Homo sapiens: one gene and its partners. The protein of the gene in region 3 purifies or fractionates together with the protein of the main gene of each other region. This does not show direct contact. Each region holds a gene or a part of one and is shown on either strand. Other genes may lie near its edges.

Region 1 (6,580 bases), on a different chromosome or scaffold from region 3:
TTGATAAACCCTTGATCTCCACAACCCGTCTTAAGCAAAATATTCCTTTCTATTGATTCTAGGTCTTTAGATAACTCTTTCAATCAGAAAATCTTTTTTTTTTTTTTCTGAGTCTCATTCTGTTGCCCAGGCTGGAGTACAGTGGCATGATCTCGGCTTACTGCAACCTCCGCCTCCTGGATTCAAGTGATTCTCCCGCCTTAGCCTCCCAAGTAGCTGGGATTATAAGCACCCACTACCATGCCCAGCTAATTTTTGTTTTTTGTTTTTTGTTTTTTTGAGATGCAATTTCGCTCTTGTTACCAAGGCTGGAGTGCAATGGTGCAATCTTGGCTCACTGCAACCTCTGCCTCCCGGGTTCAAGCAATTCTCCTACCTCAGCCTCCTGAGTAGCTGGAGTTACAGGCACCTGCCACCATGCCCGGTTAATTTTTGTATTTTTAGTAGAGACGGGGTTTCATCATGTTGGCCAGGCTGGTCTCGAACACCTGACCTCAGGTGATCCACCTGCCTGGGCTCCCAAAGTGCTGGGATTACAGGTGTGAGCCACCACACGTGGCCTAATTTTTGTATTTTTTGTAGAGATGGGTTTTGCCATGTTGGCCAGGCTGGTCCCAAACTCCTCAGCTCGATGCAATCCGACCACCTCAGCCTCCCAAAATGCTGAAATTACAGACGTGAGCCACAGCACCTGGCCAGAAAAATCTTTAAATGTGTCTATGACCTGGAAGCCCCGGCTTTCAGCTGCCCTACTTTTCCAGACCACACCAATGTACGTCTCACATGTATTGATTGATATCTCATGTCTCCCTAAAACGTATAAAACCAAGCTGTAGCCCGACCACCTTGGACACATGTTCTCAGGAGCTCCCGAGGCTGTGTCATGGGCCTTTGGTCACTCATATTTGGTTCCGAATAAATCTCTTGAAATATTTTATAGAGTATTTTCATTGACAGATGGTTGCTAAAATGCAGGTGGCAGAGCCAGCTGTGTTCTACCTATGACAATTTTCTGTGGCGCTCACCACCTTGCTCATGGAGGGGGGCTTTACCCATTGACTCCTGGAGTCATTCAGTCTCTGTGACTAATGCCTTTCATTCTACAACTTCCCACATATAAATGTGGCCTGGCTGGCTCAGTTTTTCCCTGGACAGTCTCCAGACATTATTTTCCTTCTGTTTCTACAAGCCTGTTTGCAACAAATCTTATGACACAAACAGATTAATTTCAACGACCATCACAATGTTGAATTTTTTTCTCCCTCAACAGATAAGCATTTTTTACACATCTAAGCCAAGATGCACAAAGGTCAATTATGCTGCAGGGCATTTGAGAAGGGGGTTGGTTCAGTTGCGAACTGACCGCTGAGATGCAAACCCCAGTGTCTGGTGGGAGGGACAAGGCAGGGACTTTCAGATTTTACTATAAATGCTTGAGTATTGCTTGAATCCTTTATGCTAAGAATGTATTTCCACTCTTCCTTAATGAAAAATAAAATTTAAAATTAGCCAGGCATGGTGGCAGGTACCTGTAATCCCAGCTACTCAGGAGGCTGAGACAGGAGCATCACTTGAACCTGGGAGGTGGAGGTTGCAATGAGCCGAGATCCTGCCATTGCACTCTAGCATGGGTGACAGAGTGAGAGTTTGTGTCAAAAAAAAAAAAAAAAGAAATAGAAAAAGAAAAAAAAAAAAAAACAGGTGAGCATGTTGGCTCACACCTGTAATCCTGGCATGTTGGCAGGGCAAAGTGGGAGGGTCACTTGAGGGCAGGTGTTCAAGATCATCCTGGGCAATATAGCAAGATCCCATCTCTACAAAACAAAAAATAGGCTGGGCATAGTGGCTCATGCCTATAACCCCAACACTTTGGGAGGCCGAGGCAGGCAGATCACTTGAGGTCAGGAGTTCAAGACCAGCCTGTCCAATGTGGTGAAATCCCATCTCTACTAAAAATACAAAAATCCGCTGGGCGTGGTGGTGCACGCCTGTAATCCCAGCTACTCGGGAGGCTGAGGCAGGAAAATTGCATGAACCTGGGAGAAGGAAGCTGCAGTGAGCTGAGGAAGGGCCACTACACTCCAGCCTGGCCAACAGAGTGAGACTCCATCTCAAAAAATAAATAAATAGGCTGGGCGTGGTGGCTCACACCTGTAATCCCAGCACTTTGGGAGGCCGAGGCAGGCGGATCACAAGGTCAGGAGATCGAGATCATCCTGGCTAACACAGTGAAACCCCATCTCTACTAAAAAATACAAAAAATTAGCCGGGCGTCATGGCAGGCGCCTGTAGTCTCAGCTACTCCAGAGGCTGAGGCAGGAGAATGGCATGAACCTGGGAGGTGGAGCTTGCAGTGAGCCAAGATCACGCCACTGCACTCCAGCCTGGGCGACAGAGCGAGACTCTGTCTCAATAAATAAATGAATAAATAAAAGAACAGTTAAGAAAAAAAAAGGAGCGAATGTTATAAACAAACACGGAGTTTCCTGTACTGCTGGTAGAACGGCCTTTCAGTGCTTTGCTTCCTGGATCCGGGTACCAGCTCTGCCTCTCACCAGCTGACCTTTCGGGGTGCAGGGGCGTGGTCACTGATCCTTGGGAAGCCTCAGATACCTCACCAGCAAGATGGGCTGAGCACAGATTAAGAGAACATATTTTAAGAATTTAGCATAATAGGCCGGGCATAGTGGCTCACGCCTGTAATCCCAGCACTTTGAGAGTCCGAGGCAGACGGATCACGAGGTCAGGAGATGGAGACCATCCTGGCTAACATGGTGAAACCTCGTCTCTACTAAAAATACAAAAAATTAGCCAGGCATGGTGGCGGGCGCCTGTAGTCCCAGCTACTCGGGAGGCTGAGGCAGGAGAATGGCGTGAGCCCAGGAGGCAGAGCTTGCAGTGAGCCAAGATCACGCCACTGCACTCCAGCCTGGGTGACAGAGCGAGACTCTGTCTCAAAAAAAAAAAAAAATTAGCTGGGCATGGTGGTGTGCACCTGTAATCCCAGCTACTTGTGAGGCTGAGGCAGGAGAATTGCTTGAACCCAAGAGGCAGAGGTTGCAGTGAGCCAAGACTGCGCCAGTGTACTCCAGCCTGGGCAACAGAGTGAGACTCTTGTCTCAAAAAAAAAAAGAATTTAGCATAATGCTGAGCACTTAAGAAGTACTTAAGCAGTAACTGCTAGACAATATAGACGATATTGTTATTGAGATCCTTCCTATATAAACTTCATCTACAAATCAGTAGGAAAAAGATGAATCACCCAATGCAAAGATAGCCAGAAGACAAACTCATTTTAAAATAAATTCATCCAGGCTGGGCACTGTGGCCCATGCCTGTAATCCCGGCACTTTGGGAGGCCAACGCGGGCAGATAACCTGAGGTCAGGAGTTCGAGACCAGCCTGGCCAACATAGTGAAACTTCGTCTCTACTACAAACACAAAAAAATTAGTCAGGTGTGGTGGCGTGTGTCTGTAATCCCAGTTACTCGGGAGGCTGAGGCAGGAGAATCACTTGAATCTGGGAGGTGGAAGTTGCAGTGAGCTGAGATCACGCCAGTGCACACCAGCCTGGGCAACAGAGTGAGACTCTGTCTCAATAGATAAATAAATATATATATAATAAAATAAATTCATCCTTATTAGGCAAGAAAGGCAAAAAGCAAACTAACAACAACGAGGCAATTTTCACAAGACCTCCTCAAGGCAGGAGAGGGCAGGACCCCGAGGTAGGGAGAAGTAAGTGTCATGCCTTAGGCAAGCCGGGTTTACACCCAGAGCCGTCTCTTCCAACTTCCTCTCCTATCACTGCACCTCCTGCTCCCATGTCAATGACTTCTCTTCTCTTTGGATCTCAATGTCCCCATCTCTACAATGGGGAAATCCCAGCCTTGCAGGTGTTGTTTGGACAGTGACCAAGAAGACAGGAAAAAAGTACCTGCACAGAACCAGGCCCACAGTCGGTTCTCAAACACCGGAGCCTTCTGCTGTATTACAAAGTTTGATGGGCGACCTTACGGAAAGCATTGAAGTTCTTTTACCTTCCTTCTTTCGGTCTCTGGAGAGGTTAAGTGCCAGCTCCTGGCCTGTTTCCCCATCACTAAGACAGGAATGACACCACCTACTTCACTGGTGAGCTTCAGTGCTAACGGACTGGCTGGAAAGTGCTGGTAAACAGTCAGTGCTCAGTAAGTGACAGCCTTACTGTGAGCCCACTCTCTCGTCCTATGAGTCCTGACCATCTGTCTCTGGGAAGCCAGAGGGGCACCTCTATGGTGTCCCTGACTCTGGGATCCCAGCAGCAGGGACAACCAAGCCATCTACCTGATTTCAGCATACATGCCACCACAGGAGCCTGGGATCCCCTGCATTGGAAGGCATGCCGCCCTCGGACATGGACTCAGGGAGACCTGGCTGCAAACTCAAGCTTGCCCATGCATGCTGGGGAGGGCATGACCTTCAGAGCCTGTATTCTGCCATCCAGGAAACAGGGAAGAGGTGCCCCCAGACAGAGGTGACGCAGGACCTGCTGTGTGGGATGCCCACTCCTACCTGCAGGATGTCATGTGTGGGCTCCTGGGATCCGTCTGCAGAGACTTTAGGTGCCGTCTTTACAATGTTGCTCAGATCAACCCCTGTTGGGGGTGGGGGAAGCAAGCACACAGGGGTCAGAAAGAAAGTGACAGCTGTCATCCCCGTGGGCCTGCTGGAATCACACCTCAGGACCCTTCTGCTGGGACCACCCCACTCCAGAAGCCTCCCACCTCCCTATTCCCGCCCATGCCACATCATCACGGGGGTGTAGAGGGTATTGGGTGTTTCTGCCACTGGTCCGTGGGCCAAAGGGAGCAGAGTGGTAGTGAGGCCGTTGTCACACAAGGCTGTCATCACAGGCCACGTCTGTGCAGTGAGGTGCCACATGCTGCCTGGTGGGCTTGGTGGGGGAGGGAGGGACCCCACAGCCTTCTCCCTTGGGGCTCCCATCCCTCCTGGCTCTGGCTGCATTCTTGCCCCTGCTGGCACCCCCACAGGGAGCCCCTACAGTGCTGGACGCTTTTGCTTGTCCCACTGGCCCCTGTCTAGTGTTCTATACCCCACTCTGTGCCTAGGAGGCTGACCTCTGACCTCTCAGGCTGTACCCTGGGTTTGTTCAATGGGGAAGTGAACTTGAGATGGGGGCAGGAGGAGGGGAGTGTGGGGTGTTCATTCCCAGCCCCCTGCCTCTGCCCCAGGGCCCAGCACCCATCATGTGGCCCCTGCCCAGGACTCCTGCTCCCTGCAGTCAGGGTCTCTGCCGGAGCTAGTTGTGCTAGGGGTGGTCTCCTAACCCCACCCACACCATTGCAAACAGCCCCTCATAACCACACTCATCTGCACCTGGTCTGAACATGCCACCTGTTTCCACAGGCTGCTTCTGCCTCTGTAAGCTCGAGGTAGGGTAGAGTAGGGCAGGGAGGCAGGGGCCCTGTTTCCCAGGCCAGGGTCAGGGAAAGTCTCTTCAAGGAAGTGATCAAATGAGACTCATGAGAAGGATCCAGCCCACAAATATCTGGGCGAGGTGGAAGCAGGTGAGAGGTGGGAGCAGGATAACCAGCCTGCCTCGGGCAGAAGCTGGAGGGGACAGGGCCCAATGGCACCTGGTTTCTATGCCAGGCATGTGGCACCCCCAGTGGGGCGGGGCAGCAGGGCTCTCCCACTGCTCTTGCATCTAAGAGCCAAGGATGGTAGGTGACAGTCACACCACCCTACCTTGCGATTCAAACTGCTCCACGGCCTCTTTCACTGCCTCCTCTGGCCCCATCGCAAACTCCTCGATGTTCTCGCGCACAGCTGCATCAAAGGTCTCCTGGGCAATGCGCTTGGAGACCATCTTCGCCTGTGTTGATGTTGGCGTGCAGCCGATAGATGCTCCTGAGCTGAGAGGTTAGGGCAAAGAGAGAGCTACCTCAAGGGTGAGCAGGCAATGGCAGGGCCTGGCCACCTTGAAAACGCCACTTAGGAAGCATCTACCAGCGACCAGAGCCCTACAACCACCCTGGAGAAATTCTTCCCACCTGTTATCACAGGAAAGGGTGATATCCCTACTTCCCTAGAACTTCTGCAAATACAGAAGAGGCCGGGTGTGATGGCTTAGCCTGTAATCCCGGCACTCTGAGAGGCCGAGGTGGGAGGATCACTTGAGCCTGGGAGGTCAAGGCTGCAGTGAGCCATGATCACACTACTACACTCCAGCCTGGGCCACAGAGTGAGACCCTGTCTTGGGAAAAAAAAACAAAGTGTAGGAGAGAACACAGAGTTTACTACATTTTATCTAAGAAAGGTGGTTCTTTAATATAATGATACTAGTAATGTTATTCTGAAACTATTACGGATGTAGCAAATAATAATGATTATCTTATTAGGAATCAGAATAAAAGAAAAAAGATTCTGGCTGGGCGCAGTGGGTCAATGCCTATAATCCCAACACTTTGGGAAGCTGAGGCAGGAGGATTGCTTGAGCCCAGGAGTTCAAGACCAGCCTGGACAACATGGCAAAAGTCTGTCTCTACCAAAATAAAAATAAAAATTAGCTGAGTGTGGT
Region 2 (6,580 bases), on a different chromosome or scaffold from region 3:
GAGTCACCGCTGTCAGTTTTTCTTCTTTTTCTTTAAGAGACACGGCCTCACTGCATTGCCCAGGCTGGAGTGCAGTGGCGTGATCCCAGCTCACTGCTGCATCAAACTCCTGGGCTGAAGCAATCCCTCCACCTCAGCCTCCCGAGTAACTGGGACTACAGGTACGTGCCACCATGCCTGGCTAATTTTATTTTTATTTTTTGTAGAGACAGGGGTCTTGCTGTTGCCCAGGCTGGTCTCGAACTCTTGGCCCCAAGTGATCCTACTGCCTCAGCCTCCCAAAGTGCTGGGATGACACATGTGAGCCACCACATCCAGCCCATCAGATAGTTACTAAATGAAAGATAGTTCCTGAGCCATGCAGTGAGGGGAGAAGGTGGCAGAAGGCTGCCCACTGGGGGACACAGCGAAGATATTCTGCTAACCACAGGCGGCTCTGCCAGGTTCACATGCAGACTCCAAGGAAGCATCCTCTCATGAGATCGCAGTTCCACTTGCATGACCTTTCATAGGGGAATTTACCACGGAAAAGGGTATTTACTTGGCTAGTCCTATTGAACAATAGGCAACTGAGCTTCACTCCCTACCTTCTAACACCATGAGGAACGTGAGCAAATGGAACAACAGATCCACTCACTCCTGAAATGATCCAGACACATGTTGGGCCAAATCATGTCTAACCATGAACTTGTGTGCAATGGAAACACGACACAGAGGGCCCAAGGCTCCTCAGCCTGCCTTCACAAGAACAAGCTCACTTAACAAATATAATTCTCCCACCCAGCTCTATATAACATAATAATTTCCAAATTTGGGGAAGCTTCTCACACTGCCTACCCAGGGGAATGAACCAAATCATCAAGGGAGAAAACCAGACAAGAAATGCTTCCAGAGGTCCCAGGTGAAGATGTCACACTGGGAACAGACAGCCATCTCTCTGACCTCTTGTGAACTGCAGGCATAATAGGCATGAAGAGAAAAACCCCAGACAGTGAAAATGGGGGAAGAGGGAGGCCAGGAACAGATGAGATGTCAACAAATCTGCAGAAGACAAAAGGAGGAGGGGCACAGGAGACAAATCCTATAGGGTAGGAGACATCCAGAAGCCACAGCTACATAGGCTCCAGTTGGGAGTCGGCAGGTATGCAGAGCAGGAGCAAGGCCAGGGGCACATGTGGGAACTGCTGTGGCCCTGGACGCCCCACTGAAAGGGACAGGAATCCCTCTGTTTGCTACAGAAGAATGGAGGACCTTGCTCCAAAGACACTGACCAGCAGTCTGAGGACCTAGTGTGGATGCCTGTGTGTCAAGTGAAGTCCTACTCACTCAAGCATTAGGATGCCAAGACCCTATGTCCTATAAAGCAAAGCTGACTGGTCAATCCACTCAGCTGTCGGTGGTGGTGGGACGAGCAGGTTTCAGACACACAGTAGACAAACCCATCAATACGGTCCCACACTCAAGAGAATGGGAGAAAAATATTTTTGTATTAAAAAAAAAAAAAAGACCGGGCATGGTGGCTCACACCTGTAATCTCAGCACTTTAGGAGGCCGAGGCAGGCAGATCACCTAAGGTTGACAGTTCGAGACCAGCCTGACCAACATGGAGAAACCCCGTCTCTACCAAAAATACAAAATTAGCCAGGCGTGGTGTTGTATGCCTGTAACCCCAGCTACTCCGGAGGCTGAGGCAGGAGAATCGCTTGAACCTGGGAGGCAGAGGTTGCGGTGAGCCGAGACTGCACCATTGCAACAGGAGCCTGAGCAACAGGAGTGAAATTCTGTCTCAAAAAAAAAAAAAAAAAAAACTAGAGAACTGAAGACTGCATCTTGTGAGAAAAAACAGGCAGATGAAAACAAGTTAAAAAAAAATACAGAGCTAATTTGGAAAAAAGATATCCAAAAATATTTCTATTTTATGTCTTCACAGAGATCTGAGAAGACACTATATCCATATAACCAGAATAAAATATGAAAATAGAACAATTAGGCCAAAAAGAAAGAACACAAGAATTTAAAATACAGTAGCTAAAATTAAACTTCAATAAAGAGGCTGGAAGATAAAGTCAAAGAAATCAAGGTAGAAACACAGATCAATTCAGGCAATCAATTTGGCATTCCAGAAATTATGACAGTAATAAGATAATTTTCCAGAGCCAAAGGAAAATATGCCTCCAGATTGAAAAGTCCCACCAAGAGCTAAGCAGAATGAATGAAAGACTCATGAAATTTTATGACACTGGGTGTTTTTAAAAAGGTCCTGAAAGTTCCAAGGAGGAGAAAAAGCTTACTCACAAAGAGATGGAATAGACTTCCAGAATCAATTACACAGAGTGTAAGAAGATATCCCTTTCAATCCTAACAAGGGAAAATTATTTTTAAGCTAGAATTCTACATACACCCAAACTGAGAAATAAGTGAAAAGTTAAAATAAATGCATTTTAAGATATACAACAATTCTACATTATATATCACTTTGAGAAAAACAAAATGAGGATGAAAACTGAAAAAGAGGAATATCCAACTCAAGTCCAAAAACTGCATTTAATCTATAAACGCAGGAAGAAAATACCAGGAGTGTAGCTATACAGCAGAACAGGAAATAACCAGTCTAGAGTGGAGTTCAGGCAGAAAGAGATTTCTAGACAATACTCAGTATTAATGAATCTGGGTAATTCTGAGGTTATGATGAAGTATACTATTTTTGATAACAAGATAAAAAAGAAGGGCAGCAAGAACCCTCAGGAAAACAAAAAAGATTTAAGAGATTCCTGATCCAAAGGATGTCAGTGAAAATGGTGGTTACTACAGGCCTCCAAAAAGCTCTCCTCCATAAAAGCAACCAAAAAGTTGGCAAAAATTGTCAGTATCAACTTCTTATGGATTTTGGAAACTAACCAAAGGTTTGCAGGAACCCAGGGAGCATTAATTCAAGGAAAACAACCACATCTCAGTAAGAACAGTGAGCTCTGTGATATTTTAATTTGGCCTAGACCCATCCCCACTCTCCAGGCTCTCAGCAGGCCGCATTCCTGGTACAGCGTAGCAGCCATCGCTGGAGAAAACAGTGCTCTTAGAGCTCTTTCAAAGCTTCATTCTCAAAGAACTGTCATCATTTGACCTGTCTGATGGTTCCCTGTAAGACCTCATTTGCAAGACTGACTGACTGTTTCTGGCTAAACTCAGAAAAGCCTTCCTCCCAACCCAGGAGTGTCTGTTGAAAATACGGCAAGTGTTTTAACTTTGCAGCCTCCTGAGGTGGCAGATAACAACTGAGGCAAACCAAAGGCAAAGGTGGGAAATAAAATGTCCGTGGGGGCTTTGAAAAGCTTTGACATTTTCCCAGGAATCTAGAAAGACACATGAATGTACAGAGCTTCACTGCACACTCAGGAAAAACCTAAGAAGGCCTTAAGCTCTCACCTCTGGCTGACTTTGACTCAACATCAGCAGGAAATAAAGGCTAAGGCAGTTTTTAACTGTTAGGCCAAGCAATGAAGGTATGCTCCAACAGGTAGATGAAGCCCCTCGACAAAAACAGGTGTTTACTGATCCCAGGAGTTTAAGGAAATCGCCATCTAATAATTACTTGGCCACTAAGTTCACCAAGTACAGATTTCACTGGTCAGACACAATAAAGAATACAAACTTTACAGAATTAGTTCAGAAAAGTCATTAAACAAGAACAACTATATCACGTACCAATAGCAACCATGGGAAGAAAGGAGCATCTGATTTCCTGAGTCACCCCATTGTGTTATTTAAAAATCCATTTCTCAATAACAGCAAAAAAAAAAAAATTAGACAAAGAAACAACAAAGTATGGCCCATACATAGGAAAAAGAAAGCAATCAATAAAATCTGTCCCTGAGGAAGCCCACATATGAAGAACTTAGCAGAAAACAGTCTCTAAATCACCTATTTTAAATATGCTCAAAGAGCTAAGAAAACTATGCAAAAATTACTAAAGGAAAGTATGGGAATAACGTCTTTTAAGTAGAGAATATCAATAAATATCAGTATCACTATTGATACTGATAACGAGATAGAAATTATTATTACCATTTTTTTAAGAATCAAATACAAATTCTGGAGTTCAAAAGTAAAAGGGGGAAAAGATAAGCGTTCATGAAAGGGGCTCAAAACCACTTTTTAGCATTTAGAAGAAAGAACAAGCAAACTTGAAGACAGGTCAATTGAGATTACCCAAACTGCGAAACAGGAGGAAAAAACAGTGAAGAAAAATAAACAGAGTCACAGAACCTGAGGGACACTATTAAGCATACCAACATACAGAAGAGAAAAGAAGAAAGAATATTTGAAAGAATAATGGCTAAAAACTTTCCAAATTTGACATGAAAAAAATTACACCCAAGAAGCTCAATGAATTCCAAGTAAAATAAACTAAAAGGGAGCCAGCCTCACCTAGATGTCATAATCAAACTGTCAAAAAAGCCAAGTCAATAATGAAGGAACAGAACAAAAACAAGGAATAAAATCTTCAGAACTTACTATAAAGCTACAGTAATCAAAACAGTGTGGTACTGGCATAAGGACAGGCATCTATACAGATCAATGGAACAGAATTAAAAGTCTAAAAACAGCCAGGCACAGTGGCTCACGCCTGTAATCCCAGCACTTTGGGAGGCCGAGGTGGGTGGATCACGAGGTCAGAAGATCAAGACCATCCTGGCTAACATGGTGAAACCCCGTCTCTACTAAAAATACAAAAAAAATTATCCGGGTGTGGTGGCGGGTGCCTGTAGTCCCAGCTACTTGGGAGGCTGAGGCAGGAGAATGGTGTGAACCCAGGAGGTGGAGCTTGCAGTGAGTGGAGATCCTGCCACTGCACTCCAGCCTGGGGGACAGAGCAAGACTCTGTCTCAAAAAAAAAAAAGTCTAGTAACAGGCCAGGCATGGTGGCTCACACCTGTAATCCCAGCACTCTGGGAGGCCGAGGCAGGCAGATCATGAGGTCAAGAGATCGACATTATCCTGGCCAACAGGGGGTAACCATATTTCTACTAAAAATACACAAGTTAGCTAGGTATGGTGGTGCGTGCCTGTAGTTCCAGCTACTCGGGAGGCTGAGGCAGGAAATCGCTTGAACCCAGGAGGCAGAAGTTGCAGTGAGCCAAGATCGCGTCACTGCACTCCAGCCTGGCAACAGAGCGAGACTCTATCTCAAAATAAAGTCTAGTAACAAACTCATATATTTATGATCAATTGATTTTAGACAAGAGTACCAAGACAATTCAATGGGAAAAGAATAGTATTTTCAAGTAATTGTACCATGAGAACTGAGTATTCACATGCAAAAGAATGAAACTGGTCTAATAATTCAAAATGAAGTTGGACAACTATTTCATAGCATATAATAAATTTTTTAAACTCAAAATGGATCAAAAACCTAAATGCAAGAGTTAAAATCTGTGATCTTGGGTTAGGCAACGGGTTTTAGATATAACACCACAAGCAGCCAAAGCAAAAAAAAAAAATATTGACTTCATCAAAATTTAAAACTTTTATGCTTCAAAGAGTAGTATCAAGAAAGTGAAGACAACCCATAAAATGGGAGAAAATATCTGCAAATAATGTATCTGACAAGGGTGTAGTATCCAGAATACGTAAAGAAGTCTTACAACTCCACAATAAAAAGGCAAACAACCCAATTAAAACATGCATATGGACTTGAATAGGCATTTCGCCAAAGAAGATACACAAGTGGAAAATAAGGACATAAAAAGATGCTCAATGTTATTAGTCATGAGGGAAATGCAAATCAAAACAATGAAATCCTACTTCATACCCAGTAGGATAGCTACAATTAAAAAACAAAACCAAAACAGACAATAACAAGGGTTGATGAGGATACAGAGAAATAAGCACCCTCATACATTTCTGGTGGATCTGTAAAATATAAAATGGTACAACCACTTTGGAAAACTGTTTGACAGTTCCTCAAAAAGTTAATTATAGAGGTACCACATGACCCAGCAATTCCACCCATAGGTATATACCCTAGTGGTGAAGACAGAAAACATATGTCCAGAGAACTGGAAGCATATGTCCATGTATGGGTGGTAAAGGGAAAGATTGGAGGTACAAGTAGATGCACAGTGGGGAAATACAGAGACGCCTCTTTCTAGCCTCATTCCACAGGACAAGTCCTCAGATGCCAGCAAAGGACAAGCAAGGCAGTCTGAAGGAAGAAAAGAGATTGAGACCACCTTAGATACAATCTTGTGGCACACTCATGTTCAGGCAGATGCCATGTCACAGGCCAGAGGTCATCACCCTTAGGTTCTGATAAGAACTCTACCACTGAGGCCCCTCTAAGACTAGGAAGATATCCAGGAAGCTGAGCAATGTGTCCCTTACCAAACAATAAATAAGATGAAGATACACATGCAAGTACACTGTGTGTGGATATATCCAAAAAACACATCCACGTGTACTGAGCATAATTAAAGTTATATTCGATGCAAAAACTGGTTTAAAACCCAGAGTACTCACAACCAACATGGCACAAAATCCTTATTCACATACAACTTGTAACAGATGGTGTATACAATCTAGA
Region 3 (4,999 bases):
AACCTTTTCTCTCCAGTTATCTAACACTCCTCAGAACACATCCTGTGCTCCCAAACAGCCCTCCTGCCTTGCCTTATCAAAGTACCTCCCAACTCTGCAGCTCCCGCGTTTGCTCCTTATCATAAAGATGCTGCAGGCTGGGCGCAGTGGCTCACGCCTGTAATCCCAGCACTTTGGGAGGCCGAGGTGGGCGGATCACGAGGTCAAGAGATCGAGACCATTCTGGCCAACATGGTGAAACCCCGTCTCTACTAAAAGTACAAAAAAATTAGCTGGGCGTGGTGGTGTTCGCCTGTAGTCCCAGCTACTTGGGAGGCTGAGGCAGGAGAATTGCTTGAACCCGGGAGGCGGAGGTTGCAGTGAGCCGAGATTGCACCACTGCACTCCAGCCTGGCGACAGAGCGAGACTCCGTCTCAAAAAAAAAAAAAAAAAAGATGCAGCATGTGGCTCGGCCTCCATCACCAGCAGGGAACTACCTGAGGGCACCTGCCATGTGTCTGCAGCTGTGTATTTCCAGAGCCATGTGCCTGGCCTGACAGACGAAGGCTACTACCTGAATTAATGCCACCTCTCTTTCCACCTAACTATAACCACCTTCAGCTCCAGTGAAGTCTTAGTCATGGATGTACAATTTAATTCTCTTGAACTTTATGATAAATCACAGCTGCCTTTGCAGGTGGGTTCAGATTCATCTCATTCTTTTCAGTGGCTCCATTGTATACCACTCAATAGATGAACTATAATTTATTGAGTCATGCCTCTACAAATGGACATTTGACTTGTTTGTAATTTTTTATTATACATAATGCTGTAAAAAATATTTCCTGGGCCAGGCATGGTGGTTCACACTCCAGGATGGAGTGCAGTGACACAGTCATAGCACACTGCAGCCTCAAAGTCCTGAGGCTCCTGCCTCAGCCTCTAAAGTAGCTAGGACTACAGGCGTACACCCCACGCCCAGCTAGTTTTTTTATTTTTATTTTTTGTATAGACAGCATCTATGTTGACCAAGCTAGTCTCAAACTCCTAGGCTCAAGCGATCCATCTGCCTCAGCCTCCGAAAGTGCTGGAATTACACGCATGAGCCATCACGCCTGGCCTTGTTTTTTGTTCATTTATTTAAAAAAATTTTTTTAAATCGAGTTCCGCTCTTGTCACCCAGGCTAGAGTACAATGGCATTATCTCAGCTCACTGAAACGTCCACCTCCTGGGTTCAAGTGAATTCTCCTGCCTCAGCCTCCTGAGTAGCTGGGATTATAGGCGCACGCCACCACACCCAGCTAATTTTTGTATTTTTAGTAGAAACAAAAAAAACCAACAACCTTCCAGGCGTGGTGTACGCACCTATAGTCCCAGCTACTTGGCAAGGGGCTCACTTGAGCCCAGGTGTTCAAGGCTGTAGTGTGCAATGATTGAGTCTGTGAATAGCCACTGTATTCCAGCCTGGGCAACATAATGAAACCCCATCTCTAAAAAAACCAAAAAACAGGCCAGTTGCAGCGGCTCATGCCTGTAATCTCAGCACTTCGGGAGGCCGAGGCAGGCGGATCACCTGAGGTCAAGAGTTTGAGACCAGCCTGGCCAATATGGTGAAACCCCTGTCTCTACTAAAAATAAAAAATTAGCCGGTGTGGTGGCACGCACCTGTAGTCCCAGCTACTTGGGAGGCTGAGGCAGGAGAATCGCTTGAACCCAGGAGGCAGAGGTTGTTGCAGTGAGCTGAGATGGCGCCACTGCACTCCAGCCTGGGCGACAGAGTGAGATTCCATCCCCCCCCAAAAAAAATCTGTGATCACGTGTTTTTTTCTTATAGTACCTATTGTCAAGGTTTAGGTATCAGGGTTACATTAGCTTTATAAAAATAAATCAGGAAGATCCTGCAACAAAAAAAAGGGAGGACAGGCCGGGCATGGTGGCTCACGCCTGTAATCCCAGCACTCTGGGATGCTGAGGCGGGCGGATCACGAAGTCAAGAGGAGAATCACTTGAACCCGGGAGGCAGAGGTTGCAGTGAGCCGAGATTGCACCACTGCACTCCATCCAGCCTGGGCAACAAAAGTGGAACTCCATCTCAAAAAAAAAAAATCTCATTATTTTCTTCTACAATCCACTTTGGTAACTTATATTTTGCTAGAAAATCAAACATTTCCACAGGGCACGGTGGCTCACTTCTATAATCCCAGCACTTTGGGAAGCCAAGGCGGGCGGATCACAAGGTCAGGAGTTCAAGACCAGCCTGGCCAATATGGTGAAACCCTATCTCTACTAAAAATACAAAAATTAGCTAGTGCGTGCCTGTAGTCCCAGCTACTTGGGAGGCTGAGGCAGAAGAATCACTTGAACCCGGGAGGCTGAGGTTGCAGTGAGTCGAGATCGTGCCACTGCACTCCAGCCTGGGCAACAGGAGTGAAACTCCTTCTCAAAAAAAAAAAAGAAATCAAACATTTCCTTCAGATTTTCAAATCTGTTGGCCTAAACAAGTCCACAATATTCTTTTATAATTCTTCTATTTTCTCCCGTATCTATATCTTTCCACTTCTGAAAATAGTATACTTTGGTTTTCTTTTTCTCCTTAATTAGGCTAACCAAGAGGTTTTCTTCTTTATTCATATATATACGTATATACACGTATACATACACGTATATATATATATACGTGTATATATATGTGTATATATATAAAACATATATGTGTGTGTGTGTGTATATATATATATATTTTTTTTTTTTGAGACAGAGTCTTGCTTTGTTGCCCAGGCTGGAGTACAGTGGCGTGATCTCAGTTCACTGCAACCTCCGCCTCCCAGGTTCAAGTGACTCTCCTGCCTCAGCCTGCCAAGTAGCTGAGACTACAGGCGAGCACCACCACGCCCAGCTGATTTTTTGTATTTTTAGTAAAGATGGGGTTTCACCGTGTTAGCCAGGATGGTCTCTATCTCCTGACCTCATGATCCACCCGCCTCAGCCTCCCAAAGTGCTGGGATTACAGGCGTGAGCCACCGCGCCTGGCCTTTTTTTTTTTTTTTTTTTTGAGACAGGGTCTCACTCTGTTGCCCAGACCAGAGTACAGCTGTAGTGGCATGATGTCAACTCACTGCAACCTCCGCTTCCCGGGTTCAAGTGATTCTTGTGTCTCAGCCTCCCAAGTAGCTGGGATCACAGGCACGCACCACCACGTCCAGCTAATTTTTTTGTATTTTTAGTAGAGATGGGGTTTCGCCATGTTGGCCAGGCTGGTTTCGAACTCCTGGCCTCAAGAAATCCACCCACCTTGGTCTCCCAAAGTGCTGAGATTACAGGCATGAGCCACTGCGCCTGGCCTAATTTTTGTATTTTTAGCAGAGACGGGTTTTACCATGTTGGCCAGGCTGGTCTCAAACTCCTGACCTCAGGTGATCCTCACGCCTTGGCCTCCCAAAATGCTGGGATTACAGGTGTGAGCCACTGTTCCCAGCCTTTATTCATAATTTTTTTTTTTTTTTGAGACAGAGTCTCGCTCTGTTGCCCAGGCTGGAGTACAGTGGCATGATCTTGGCTCACTGCAACCTCCGCCTCCCAGATTCAAGCGATTCTCCTGCCTCAGCTTCCCGAGTAGCTGGGACTACAGGTGTGTACCACCATGCCCAGCTAATTTTCATATTTTTAGTAGAGACAAGGTTTTGCTATGTTGGCCAGGCTGGTCTCGAACTCCTGACCTCAGGTGATCCAACCGCCTCCACATCCCAAAGTGTTGGAATTACAGGCATGAGCCACCGCACCCAGCTTAGTCATAATTTAAAGAACCAGTTTCTGGTTTTATTTTTAGTTAGTTTTCACAGGTATTCTTTTTCTAATTTTATTAGTTTCTGATCTTATTAGTACTAATTTTCTTTACACTTCCTTTAAGTGTAAAGGAAGTGTATAGTCCTCTGAAAGAGTCTTTCCACCCCGTAACCCACAGACACATTGTCCCCACAATCCAAAAAGCCCCTAGTTCTCTTTCTCCAGATTAGAGTATTCTCAGCAACCCACCTTGATCTTACTTCTGCTTTTCCCATAGCCCTGGGAAGTGCTGTGAGGACAAAGAACTTCTCCTTTCAGACGTCCTCACCACCCACCATGCCTAGCATTGCACAACTCTCAGGCCAAGGTAAGGCAGGCTACTAGGACTTACCGGGTAGACAAGGAGGTAGGGTCCAGGGTCCAGATAAGAATGCAGCTCTGGCAGGCCACAGCCAAGACAGAGGCACTAAGGGGCTTCCAGGCCAGAGACGCCACATTTCGCTGCAGCCGGTGCTTCAGGGAGGGGACTATGGTGCTAGGGTGAAGGGGCAGGAAACTGAGTCAAGGCAGGAACACTAAGGCTCCAGGGACCAGAGTGCAGTTAAGGAGGGAAAGCCACAGAGAAGAAGGATGATCCATCCAGGGGCCAGGGGCACCATAGGACAGGAGGGGATAAAGGTTAGGTCTAGAAGAAGCACGCATCCAGTTATGGAGCTTCCCTGACCCCAGTTCTGGAAGGAGCCCCATGAATCAGGTTCAAGAACTACAGGACTCCCCGGAACCAAGGCTGGCAAGGGAAGGTGATATTGACAAGTCAGAGCCCACCTGGTGTCCCCACACACACCTGCTGGCATTATACACACGGACTGAGTCATCTAGCAGGGCCACTGCAAACTTGTTGGTGTGGGGGTGCCATGCAAAGACACGCAAGCAGCAGCTGGACCTAAGGAAGGGGTTAACATGAAGAGTTCCTGCACCTATCCCTACCCTAGCCCAGAAGCTCACATTCATTTCCAGTAAGGACATGGTTTTTTCCTACTTTTTCTTGTATTCTTTTTTGGGGGAACAGGAGGAATGAGAATATGGTGAGCAATCAGAAAAGGAGTAGGAGTCTTTGCCTTCTCCCCAAAGGGAGTTTTGAGGTTCAGGACTTCCTTTCCACAAAGCTCCAGGGCTTGTGCACTCACCAATTTGTGACTTGGGCAAATTCAGCGATCAGATCTTCGCTCCTGAGC
Region 4 (6,040 bases), on a different chromosome or scaffold from region 3:
GGAAGGGACCCGCTCTGGCCAGAGGAAACCCATGCAGGTCCAGGGTCCAGAGGGGCTCCTCAAGGCAGTTGTCACCTCTCAGGGCTGGATTCAGTAGGGCAGCAGGCCAGGAAAATATAAAAGACCACTCTTCAGCAAGTCCCCTTACATTTCTGAGCCTCAATTTCCACATCTGCAAAATGAGACATTAATAATGATTGCGTAAACTGATGAAATGTAAGAGACTTTTAGATAAGGAAGCTCCTAGAATACACACACTATTGCTGCCTCCAACGCACACTCACATGTACACACCAACACACATACACCCTCACACACACGCTCACACACATACACACATACACACATACACACATACACCCACACAAGCACATTCCCTTTGTGGGCCTGGCACCTTAGACCCTTGGTGCCCTGGAGAAAACACATGGAGAAGTAAAAATTGAAAGAAGATTCCAATAGGAAACATGAATAGATATCCTCTTACTGCCTGAATAATTACTTCTCTTTCACCTGATCAAGGCTGAGTAAATGTTGATGTCCCTTCCTGCCTTGTGAGCCTCTGCAGGGTTATGTGGACAGGCCTCCTGGCTCCCTACCCAACTCCTCAATCTGCCCACACAGCAGTGTAGCTGCACCCACCGGCCCTGTCCCTGGTGAGGGAGCTTGAAACTCCTGCCGAGTTTGGAGTTTGCATCGCAGAAAAACTCAAGCTGTCTCCAGAGTGCACTCAGCAAGAGCAGCATCTGACTGAATTAGAGCCTGATGCTTTACCTAGCCTGGAAACAGTGATTGAGGGCCCTGCCCTGGGACCTCCAAGCCTCCAGAACACCCCTCATTGGACCCCATCCCCAGGAATCCAAACCCTCACGGAAATCTCACCAGGCCCCCCAGGACCTCTGTCCTCAGGGAGGAGGTAGCAGATCAGAAGACAGTGCCCAAGAGCTTGGGAGGAGGCCAGAGCATGACTCCAGGCTCACTCCCTACTCAGAGCAGCTTCCAGGGCTTGGGTTCCAGGGGACCCAGGAGGTAGCTGCAGGTGTCCCAGCCCCTTGTTGGGGGGTTCCCTCAGCACATTTCAAGCATTTCTTCAGGGATGCACAACCAGGGGGTGCCTAACACTAGCCAAGGGGCAGGGCTGCACCTCTACCATAGCAGCCAGGAACCCAGTGCAGAGTGGTTCTGGAATCGGAATGGGCTGGAGGGAGCAAGTTACACAGAGGCCCCATGAGAGACCCCAGGATCCACTGAACACAGAGCCACCACTGCAGGCCAGATGGCCTGACACCTGTGGGCACGCTGACCTCCCTGTCTCCACACAGTCACCTCATCGGGCAGATGGTGTCCCATCTCAGAGATAGCTGGCCAAGGCTCAGGTGATGGGGATCGCAACCTTTCATGCCCGGCCAAGGCTGCCCCAAGAACATGGAGTAGACTCAGATTCTGTCCCCTACACTGTGCCCCCAATGGGGTCAGGCTCAGGCCACCCACCCAGACCTCCGGTCCAGTGGCATCCACCATGCAGATCCCCAGTGCCAGAACCTGCCTGCCTGGGCATTGAAGGGGAGCTGGGCCTCTAAAGGCAGAGGAACTACCAGGGTCGTGCCTGCCTCCACTCACAGGGGTCCTGGGATCCAGCAAGAAGATCCTGGATCCAACAGCCCACATGCAAAAGACACAGGTCCACAGAACTGGAGCCTGGACAAGGGCCTGGCCAGAGGCCTGGAGATAAAGCCCCTCCACCTGCTCTAGGGACCCCCCAGGACCAGCATCTGCCTCCAGCCAGACCTGACCAGGGCCTCTCGGTCCCCAGAAAACCCAGGCAGGGGTCCTAGCAAGCCCAAGGCAGCTGCAAAGGGAAAACAGAAGAGAGAGAAATCTTCCCTGTCATCCTCAAACCAATGGGTCAGGGATGGGAAGTGCCCAAGGGGCTGCGAGTAGCTAGGCAAGTCCCTCCTCCTGTCAGGCCCCTCTCCTATTGTAACACTCTCTGAGCCCCCTAAGCGCTGACATTCTGGGATTCCAGAACCTCAGTTGTTCCCTATCTGTACAATATGTACAGGGGACTCATCAGTCCCAAGAGATGCACCGTCTCTCTGAATAACATGAAACAAAACAGGAAATTCCAGAAGTAAGGTAACTTTACTCAGATAAAACACAGATGGTAGCAGATAGAGGCCACAAGCTCATGGGATGCCATTCCAGAGGGCCCCTCACCCACAGAGGAGCCCCTGTAGGAAGGAGGCCCAGGCCCCATCCGCACAGCAAGTCCCGGTGAGGGGCTCTAACACACCCCCACTCCAGCCTCTGGTCATGGACACAGCCCATAGCGGGCACAGCATCATGATGGAATGGACTCTGCAGGCCACGCATGGCTCCTGGGAACCCCCAGCCCCTCCCTTCTCCTCCCAGCCTTTCCAGCTGTCTTCCCACCAGGAGGGCTCGGAGGTCACAGCACGGAACGTCTTCCAAGAGCCCCTGCCTATCTTTCTGCCTGGATGTAGGCAGGAGCTGGGGCTGGTGCAGGAGCCAGGGCAGGAACCAGAGATGGGGTCAAGCAAGGAGTCCTAGTCCAAGCAGGGCCTAGACTGCGGCTAAGGCTAGGCTGGATTCTGTGCTAAGAAACAGCATAGAAACCTGCGGGCAGAGGCTCCGGCCCAGCCTGCGGAGCACAGGATGCAGCAGGTGATTTCTGTGCCCAGCACACAAGCTCTGGCCTTATCACATTTTCCTCCACTGGCCCTAGAATGAGCAAAGAGCTTGGGCGGATAGCCTGAGCCTCAGCCAGGGAGCAGGCTGGCCTCGAGGGAGCAGGTCAGCCCAGGAAGGGAGGGGTCTGCCCATGACCAGGTGGGGTGTGGCCACAGTAGCTGGAGATTGGCAGCACCCACCCGCTCTCCCATCCCCAGGGAACTTTCTTCCAGCTTGCCAGGTGTGACCCACTCCATCTCACCGGGACCCTCACAGCAGCGTGTCGGTGCGTTTGCTGCGCCACACCACCAGGCCAGCCATGGCGACAGTCAGAACGACGGGTATAACGATCAGCGGGATGAGAACCTCGTCTGGGGGGTCCTCCAAGTGGACCCTGTCCACGGTGCAGTTGGAGAAGAACTGCCTGTGGATGCCGGTGATGAAGCCCTGGGCCAGGGGGTTGGGCCAGTAGCAGCCCACGACATTGGCCTCCATCTCGGTGCAGTTGGTGAAACTCTCATAGTACCTGCAAAAGCAGAGGGGGTGAAAGCCAGGCTCTCGCCATCCCCCCTCACACCTGCCCTGACCTGAGGCCAGGAAGATGGGTGGGGTGGCTTGGGTACAGTCCCATTTGGCCACCTATTCACAGCCCAGCCTTGGAAAATCCCCATTCTGGCCACAGGGTCATCTGTGCCCATGACCCATTCCCTGTGTCCCCTGCCCACATTTGCATCACAATGACCATGACTTGCTGCCTTTGAGGCCATGAGCTCCCAGGATCCAGGGTCTCAGCCCAGCTTCCCTGGACCTCTAAGCACTACGCAGGTCTGCCCAGAGGACACACCAAGCCATGCTTCTCCAGGGCCAAAGGGTGCCTGGATCACAGCCGCTTGGACCTGCAAAGCCTTCATCATCCAGGATACCCTAAGAGCCTGAGAGGAGGGTCTCTCTGAGGCCAGGGGCCAGCCACCTCCTAATCAAGTCAGCCTGCCCTCATGTGCCAGGTGGTGGCCAAGTGGGAGTCAGACCTGTGAGCCCCAGTCCCTGCCTCTTCATCTCCTACTCAGAAGTTGCCTCCTTCAGCCCCATCTAGCAGGACATGTGGAGCCCCCTCCTGTGGGTCCCCCTGTCCATGAGATCAAAGATGGGAAGGGCACTCAGCAAACCACCCATGATGCTCCATGACCGCCCAGCACAGGCTCTGGACAGTCCTCATGCTGACCAAGGGCTATAGCCACCAAGACCCAGAGGTCAACTCAGCATAAAGGACTTCCCAGCCACCACCTGTTCCAATGGGCAGCCTGTGGAGGTGATGACCTCCCTGTCATTGGGGTCTGCAAGGCCTAGAGTGGCAGCCACTCATTCAGGATGTTCTAGACGAAGCTAGATGGACTCCTGCCCAGATGCCACCCCCTCTGTGCAGGGCTAGCACTTCCCCACGTCTGTGCTGCATGAGTACAGATGCAGGAGTGTGAAGGGTCCTGCCTCGGCTTCCCCATGGGAAAGTAGCCCATCTCCTCCTTCCCGCGCTGTCCCAGGAGGGAGCCACTGATCTGGCCCATCAACAGGAAAGAGCTGCCTCCTGCATGGAACATCATCTGGGCGTAGATTTCCCAAAGCATCAGAAAGGGGTAGGAAACAGGGACTCTGACCTACTCCACCCAGGGTTCTCCTGGTCTCCCAACCCCATGCCCCAGGAAGGGTCTGGGAAGCCCAGGTACAGTCACTCAGCCCAGCTCCTGACTGATCCAAGGCTGGCTCTCAGCACCTTGGAATGTAGGTCAGACACACACCTGTGCCTTTCCAGGTAGTGTCAGCAGAGAACAGCCAGAGCAAAAGAAACAGCCTCGAATCCAAGTACAAAGCTGTTGGCTCTCCTGGGCCTCAGCCACAATGCAGCACCTGAGACATGCCCAGGCATTAGAGACACCTCAACAGCTAGGTCCATGGACAAACCCTCATCTTCCCTGACCTGCTTCTCCCACAGGGCCTCAGATTCAGTAGCCTGCTGTCCACCCCAACCCCCCGCCAGCTGATCCAGGAGCTGGGGAGCCGTCTAACAACACCCTGCAACAGCCTTCACCTTCAGAAGTTCCCAGCATCTATGTGTGTGATGAGAATCACATGCGGTAACCTCTGTGCCTCCAAAGTCATTCCACTGAACTGCTACCCAGGAATGCCACCCCCCAACAACCATCCCCAGGGCTGAGATGAGCCAGACAGACCCTGGAGAAGACCCTCTGTGGACAGCGAGTCTACAGGGCAAGAGGAGTGATGTCTAGCCCCAGAACCGTCCCAAGAGGAGGTGAGGCAGGGCTGAAAGCCCCTGCTGTTCCCAAACCCCACTCCCAGCCAAAGCTAGGCCACATGGAGAAGCCCACGGAGCAGAGGTAATCCCAGAAGACAGCATGGACAGTGGCTTCAGGCTCAGGTTGCAGAGCCAACATGGCAGGGCCTCTCCAACTCCAGCTCAGCCACTCACCATCTTTGTGGTATGGGCCATGTCATTTATCCTCCCTGGACCTCAGTTTCCTCATCTGTAAGTGGGTTTAATAACACTTATCCTATCAGGTGGTTGAGAGAACCAAATGAGTTGAGGTCCATGTGCCCCAGCAAGTGCCTGGCACAGAGGAGGTCATGGGGTGAGCCCACCCCAGCTGTTAGGTTTGGGGCAGAGCTGAGCACAGCACCCATCTCTGTGGATCCACAAAATCTGCATTTTTGTCACATATCTAGAGAGGTCCACATTCAGTGCTTCTCTAGAAAACCGGGAACTACTTATGATTTATTCATCCCCTGGATAATCTGGGGCCTCTCCACTCCTCCTTCAGTCAGGCTCCCCAGAGCACTCTCCCTAAAAAAGATGCACCACAACCCAGGATGGGAAGGAGAGGAGCCCAGCAGGCTGGAAGCCGGGCAAACCCCCCAGTCAGACTCCCTCTCCCCCCACCCACCTCTGGGGTGTTTGCCCACCTTCCTTTATGTTTCACCACCTGAGTGTGTTCCCAGGCAATATAGTGTTGCATTTGGAAATCCCATAGCAATGCTCCTTAACTGGGTACAGAAGGAGCCCATTGCTGCTATTGGAGGGAGGTTCCCAGGAGAGGACACGCTCTGGTTGCCCCGAGGGGCAATGAGACTCCTCCCCAGGGAAGGCCACAGGCAGGCCATGGGCGAGTTTGGGGAATAGGGTCTTCCCAGCCATGACTCGACTCCTGATGGGGTCGTCATGTGGACCAGTCCTATTGAGGGGAGCAAGCCACCTCTCCTCTAAGCTCACCAAGGCCCACCCTGCTTCAGTGGGGACCAAAGCAGAATGAACATTCAGGGGAAAGAAAGGAGTGTCCTTCAT
Region 5 (6,580 bases), on a different chromosome or scaffold from region 3:
ATAGGGGAAACAGCAAAAAATAAACAAATATTATATAATATAATCAACACACACAGGACAAGAAGTAAAAAAACTTTTTGGCTCTATCTCATAAAAGCAACAACGCAGAAACCTACCAGTTGATACTTTATCATTTTGGTTTGCTTGAATAATCAGAACAAAAAAAGACTGCGATTTTTATAGTATGAACGTTAAGGTCCGCTGCATCACGCATCAACAATAATGATGTTCTGAAAATGTCTCAGGATTAACCTAGCTCCCTAGCTGAGAACACTAAAACCATGTAAGTCTAATTCTTATGATCAACCGTTTGGATTCTCAAAAATCTAAATAGTTTGGAAACTCAAAATCTTAGTTCTTCAACCAAACAAGTGAAAAGACAGTGAACAATTAAAACAATGGTTTGGCAAATGTTTATTTAAGTACTTACAAATTTCAGGCACTATGTTAGGAGTTGAGAAAACAGATGTATAAGATGTTATCCCTACCTTCATAAACTTTATACTCTAAAAGGAAAGAAGATTCCAAGTGGGGTAATTACAATAAAGTGGTACTAATGTAGCACTATGGGCTAGGAACTTCACAAAGCAAGGAGACTTAGTTTGCAGGGTCAGGGAAGGTATCTTAAGAAAAATGATGTTTACACAGAAACATGAAGGGGCAAAGAAGTGTCTGAGGTGGAGGAAACATACTGTGCAAGGGCCTGGAGACAAGACAGCCTGGTTCAGTTGAAGAAGTGACGCAAACTTCACATGACTGAAACGCAGAGTACAAGGAATAAGGATAGCGCTACTGGGTCCATAAGCTGTACTTTATTTTTTTGAGAATTTTTCATTTATTTCATTCTTTTTTCCCCTATTTTATTTATTTATATTTTGGATTCAGAAGGTACATGTTGGGGGTTGTTACATGCATGATGCTGAGGTTTGGGAATATGGATGGTCCCATCACCCAGGTGATGTATGTAGTACCCAAGCTGTGTTTGTTTGTTTGTTTTTCTGGACCTTATCCTAAGGAAGGCAACTGAAAAGACCGAAGCATGAGAGTGAAATGAGTGCGTACTTTGCAAAAACAGCTTTAAAGTCTAGGCTTGGGAAGAGCAAGCATAGAGGCAGGGAATTCAAGTAAAAGAATGTGGCAGTTCTCCAGATGAGAAACAATAATGGCTTGATTGGCATGGATGGAATCCCAGAAAATGTCAGGAATAAGGGTTGGGAGTTGACTGCAATGGGAAAATACTGGGGCAGGAAAGATTCAGTAATTGGCTTCTCCATTTCTTCTACATTATCCAAATAGGATAATGATTACATCATTTACTGAGATTGAGAATACTGATGAAGCAGGTTTAGGGAAAGATGATGAATTTATCCCTCACTTGGATAAAGGACACAAAATTAATAGGTTTTGATGTGGCTTACTCAGCACTAAGAATGCACTAAGAAAAACACTAAGCAGATCAATTTAAAAATTAATTTTCTAGTGATTAGCAATAAACAGTTTTAATGACCTGTAAGGCTTAGTAATCACTCTTGGCAAGACATCAGAGTCCCAACATCGGTCACTTATTGAAGACTGGCATATAAACACAAGGAGCAAAAAAAAGCAAATGATGTGCAACGTTAATGAAGTTGTTAAATGTTCAATGTAAAATAAAGCACAAGAAAATGTTTTCTCTTTGATTTAAATTACATAAAATATGGTAAGACAGAAACCACAGTTAATGTTGAGTAACAGCCTATAGCTAAATGATAATATAACAGGAACTTTGTAACCACTATACAGGTTGCATCACAAATAGTAGTAGTGAATTAACGTAACAAGGAGTGACTATGTACTTTATTCTGTTGTAAGGAATATAAGAAGACTTTTATATCTGAGAATACTTCTAGCAATTGCATTTTCCCAGAACATTTTACACAAAAGAGCTCACCTACCGTACTTGTTTGGCAGCTTCAAGTATACAGGGCACAAGCCGAAACACTGGCTGCTCTTCAGACTCTTCCTGGGGTTGGTCCAGAGGCTGAGCAGCCCCATTTCTGACCCATTCTAACATTAGTTTCTCATCCAAATCAAAGAGCTTGTCCACAACCTCCCCCACCTTCACCAGCAAGTCAACTGCAGAGAATAAAACAGATATTGAAATGAAAAACAAACTGCTAAAAGCAATAGGGTTAAGCAAAATTCCTAAAGCTATTCTAAGAAAACCAAATCTTGCCAAAGCAGTACTTATTCTAAAGGGTGATTTACTTATCTTTTATGTTTAAATTTGCTTATCTTTCCTCATTTTTAAATGAGGAATTTATCAGTGTCCCAGGAGTTTAAGAAATTTTGTATCTTCAATCAAAAAACTTTCTCAAAAAAACAAACAAAAAGCTGGACATGGTGGCTTACACCTATACTCCCAACACTTTTGGGAGCCCAAGGCTGGATGACTGCTTGAACACACGAGTTGGAGACCAGCCTGGGCAAGAAAGCGAGACCCCGTCTCTACAAAAAATTTTAAAATGAGCTGAGCATGGCGGTGCATGACTATAGTCCCAGCTATTGGGGAGATTAACAGAAGGATACCTTGAGATCAGGAGTTTGAGGCTGTAGTAGGCTATGATCACACTACTGCACTCCAACCTGGGTGACAGAGCAAGATTCTGTCTCAAACAAACTTCATTACCTTGCACTCAAGGCTTTTTTTAAAAAGGTGACTTCTAGAAATAGTTACATGGTTTCCTAAAAATTAGATACAATTTAAAACATTTTTTTTCTAGAGTACATGATGACTTACCATTTGTTGAACTTGACATAATGAAGCAAATGCTATCATAAATAGCTGGATGTTCCTGGATCCTTTCAACCCAAACACTGGCCACTTCTGCCTGGGAAAGGCAAGTAAGCAACAACCTACATGGTAAACGTGGGTTGAATTTCTACTTTTCAAAAAAAAAAAAAAAACAGTAAAGGAAATTCGAAAATAAAAAATTAACTTTTTTTTCTTATCTACTCTTATGAGTAACCTTATAGAATTCATAAAAGGAAAAGCATACCTGCTTGTTTCCAGCAGAGTAGGTGGGTCTGAATCATACAAACAGTGCAATAACACCTGCCTACAAAAACAAAGAAGTTAACCGATATGCCTCACTTCTCGCATTTAAAATATCAGAGTTTTCATTTAATTTTTTGAACATCTTTATTGTGAAATACAGCATATATTCAGAAAAGCTCAAAAGATACAAATCTATAGTTAATAAATAATTATAAAGCAAACACTCGTGTTTCCAAGAAACAGAACAGAGCTGCATCTTTGTAGTCACCATGTGTCCATTCCAAATCACAATTCTCTTTCCCACCTAGAAATGATGACCATTCTGATTTTTCCAGCAATCATTTCCTTACTTTGCACTATAGTTTTATTATTTTATATATTTTGGTGTTGCTTTATACTGCAGGTAAAAGGATTAAGAGGACATGCTGAATAAATAGACATAATCTGGGAGGTTATTTGGATTCATGAAGACAGTCAAGGAGGGGAGACAACATATGAAATAAATTATACTTATTGAGTCTTCATTTATTTGCTGAAAATTATACATGTAAGATCTACCCATGTTGTTTCTTTAGCTGTTATTCTTTGACAGACTGCTGCAGAGCACTCCATTGTGTGAAAATAACACAATTTATTTTTCCAGACTACTGTTGATGGACATTTCTGTTGATTCCAATTTGGGGCTATTTCAAGCAATCCTCCTACAATATTTGTTAAGAGTTATCCTGATGCACACGTGCACAGTTTCTCTTACCATATATGCCCACTATGAGCTGGTCACAGCACATGCATATGTTCCAACGTGACCAGATAATGCCCAACTAAAGTGGTTCAACAAATTTATATCCCATCAGCAATATAAATTGCACCACACTAATATTAAGACAAGCATTTAACTGAATTTATAACATTTGTTAACATTTCTCATTTTTGGATTTTTGATAGAGAACATTAGAGACCAAACATAATCTTAAGTCATTTGTTCCATGGATGATGGTAAATTACTGAGGAATAAATACTCTGAACTAGGATCTTAAAGTCCCTCCACAACTAGGAGTTCTCTCTTTCTGAGAAACCCAGGTACTTGAATCCTGTGATAAAACCCTCATGGCCCCAGCTCTGACAAAAACTGCCTAGAACAGTTTTCTTAACCTATTTTGGGTACAAATTTCTTTGAGATTCTGATTAAAAGCCATGAACCCTTTGCCTAGAAAACTAATACACTCACAAAATTCAGCATATAATTTCGGGGTGTTCTCCGAACACAGTAACCACTGGGGTTTCCTCCATTAAAACACCTTCTGCCCAGAACTTTACACATGGAGAAGAGAACGAGCCTCGAAGCAGATATCTGAAAGTCTTTTCATCAGAGAGGCAACCCTTTATCTTCCAGTTGTTGGCAAGTCTTACACTCTAAGTCAGAGCTCTCAGGATGACATTATTCAACAAATCTAGTTTCTGTAGACTCCAGCTGAGTCATTGGATTCCCTGCCCCTAAACTGTTTTGGATTCCAGTTGGCTGCCCCATCTCCAAGTTTTGGCCCACTGGTTCTTCCCCTATCTGGCTTATTGCCACCAGCTGACAATTCAGGTTCCTTTGCTACTGAAGAAAACAGGCTTAAATCCTGAATCATTTCAGTATCTCCTGAAGAAGCCCCTAGCTATCATCAACACACAATGAAGTTCCCACAGAGTGTTCATCAAGACAAAGAAAGGACTGTCTTTCAGATTTGCTACTTTTCCTATGTATTAGAATTTCCTTAAGGATATAAATGAATATATTAAAAAACATAATTATATAGTAAGACTTACCCAAGATTTTTATCACTGCTGATGGACACACATATCTCCTGGAAACAGGCCATATTACCTAAAATTCCCACACAGATTTCCTGCCAAATCAAATTTTACAAGTCACAATGGCTCTGAGACGAAAGACGTAAACAAAAATATCAACTTGAACAAAAACTTTCGCTGAGCCAAGTTTTGGGGCAAGGCGGAGGGGAGGCAGGATAAAGAAATACATATACTGCCTGTACCCTAACCTTGACAAGCTTACAGTATTTGAGAAGGGATGAAAAACGTAAGAACAAGAAAGGGCAAAGGCAGGAGCTATGCGAGAAGAACTTCTATCGATAAAATGAGTTTTAAATGATTGATAGGAATGAGATATGCAAACAAAAAGACAGACATTCAAATAAGGGGAAAGTATCAGCAAAGGCAGGAAGGGAATCATGTACATGGCGAATACTGTAGACAATAAAGTACTCTGGTTGTGGCACAAAGTGGGTGAACAGCATGAGGTAAATACTGCAGGTATAAAGGACTGAGATTAAGGGCTCTGAATGCCGTGCTGAAGAATTAGACTTAATCTGGGAAGTTATTTGGAATCATGAAGATGCTCAAGGAGGGGAGACAACATACTGAAACAGTATCTTAGGAAGATTACTCTGGTGGCGAAATGCATAATGTATTAGTGTAGTCCCTCTTTATCCATGGTTTCAGTTACCCATGGTCAACCTTGGTATAAAAGTACTAAATAGAAAATTCTAGAAATAAACAATTCATGTTTTAAATTGCATGCCTTTCTGAGCAGCACGATGAAATCTTGCACCGTCTCACCCAGGATGTGAATCATTCTTTTGTTCAACATATCCACACTGTATGTGCTGCCTGCCCATTAGTTACTTAGTAGCCATCTTGGCTATCAGATCGACCATCGGGATATCTCACAGGGCTTGTGTTCATGTCACCCTTATTTTACTTAATAATGACCCCAAAGCACAAGAGTAGTGATGCTGGCAATTTGGATATGCCAAGGAGCCGCCATTAAGTGCTTTCTTTACATGAAAAGGTAAAAGTTCTTGACTTCATAAGAAAAACAAACAAAAATGTATGCTGAGGTTGCTTAGGATCTCTAAGAACAAATCTATCCATGAAACTGTGAAGAAGGAAAAGGAAATTTGTGCATATTATAAATAGGGTTCAGTACTATCCTCGGTTTTAGGCATTGGGGGCCTTGGAATGCAACCCCCAAGGATAAGGGGAGACTAGTGTATAGGGAAAAGAAGTTGAAAAGAACTTAAGAATCTATCTCAGTAATAGTTAATTAATATGTAATAACAGTTTATTACCACTCACGGTGGCCAGGCATTACTCTAAGCATTTTCTGTGTATAATTTCATATAATAACTTAGGTGATAGGTACTAATAGTATCCCCATTTTTTCAGATGAGGAAACTAAGGCACAGAGAAGTTAAGCTACTTGCCTAAGATCTTAAGATCTCCAACTAGAACACGGCAGAGCTCCAGAGCTTGAGCATTTAACCACTATTCCAAACTGCACCTCAGTTATCAAGATGCAAGAGGAGGAGGGCCCTCAGGCATGGAAAAGGATGAAGCTGAGGAAGACTCTCAAGGTGAAAGCAAAATAATCCAGTGTGAGGATAAAGGAGAAAGCAGTTGAACTTGACTCCTAGCTTTCAAGTTGCCTCATTTCCCCATCAGTGATATTGGTCCCGTTGACAGGAAAACTAAAAAAGA

What was found.
Region 1: the proteins of AAAS (region 3) and ARMC6 purify together in Homo sapiens (co-immunoprecipitation; one large-scale study listed by IntAct). This does not show direct contact.
Region 2: the proteins of AAAS (region 3) and NUDCD3 purify together in Homo sapiens (affinity purification with a luminescence readout; one large-scale study listed by IntAct). This does not show direct contact.
Region 4: the proteins of AAAS (region 3) and RAMP3 purify together in Homo sapiens (co-immunoprecipitation; one large-scale study listed by IntAct). This does not show direct contact.
Region 5: the proteins of AAAS (region 3) and SAAL1 purify together in Homo sapiens (co-immunoprecipitation; one large-scale study listed by IntAct). This does not show direct contact.

Annotation. Positions count from the first base shown.
Region 1 is NC_000019.10:19,042,046-19,048,625, reverse strand, and holds part of ARMC6 (armadillo repeat-containing protein 6), read right to left. Parts: intron 5,941-6,580; exon of another isoform or gene 5,916-5,940; coding exon 5,749-5,915; intron 4,635-5,748; coding exon 4,552-4,634; intron 1-4,551.
Region 2 is NC_000007.14:44,405,779-44,412,358, forward strand, and holds part of NUDCD3 (nudC domain-containing protein 3), read right to left. Parts: intron 1-6,580.
Region 3 is NC_000012.12:53,310,143-53,315,141, forward strand, and holds part of AAAS (aladin), read right to left. Parts: intron 4,999-4,999; coding exon 4,952-4,998; intron 4,708-4,951; coding exon 4,609-4,707; intron 4,300-4,608; coding exon 4,156-4,299; intron 1-4,155. UniProt on the Homo sapiens protein: Plays a role in the normal development of the peripheral and central nervous system.
Region 4 is NC_000007.14:45,180,331-45,186,370, reverse strand, and holds the end of RAMP3 (receptor activity-modifying protein 3 precursor), read right to left. Parts: intron 3,215-6,040; coding exon 2,959-3,214; 3' UTR 2,121-2,958; downstream 1-2,120. UniProt on the Homo sapiens protein: Accessory protein that interacts with and modulates the function of G-protein coupled receptors including calcitonin gene-related peptide type 1 receptor (CALCRL), calcitonin receptor (CALCR) and G-protein coupled estrogen receptor 1 (GPER1).
Region 5 is NC_000011.10:18,087,396-18,093,975, forward strand, and holds part of SAAL1 (protein SAAL1), read right to left. Parts: intron 4,930-6,580; coding exon 4,850-4,929; intron 3,099-4,849; coding exon 3,039-3,098; intron 2,896-3,038; coding exon 2,780-2,895; intron 2,116-2,779; coding exon 1,935-2,115; intron 1-1,934. UniProt on the Homo sapiens protein: Plays a role in promoting the proliferation of synovial fibroblasts in response to pro-inflammatory stimuli.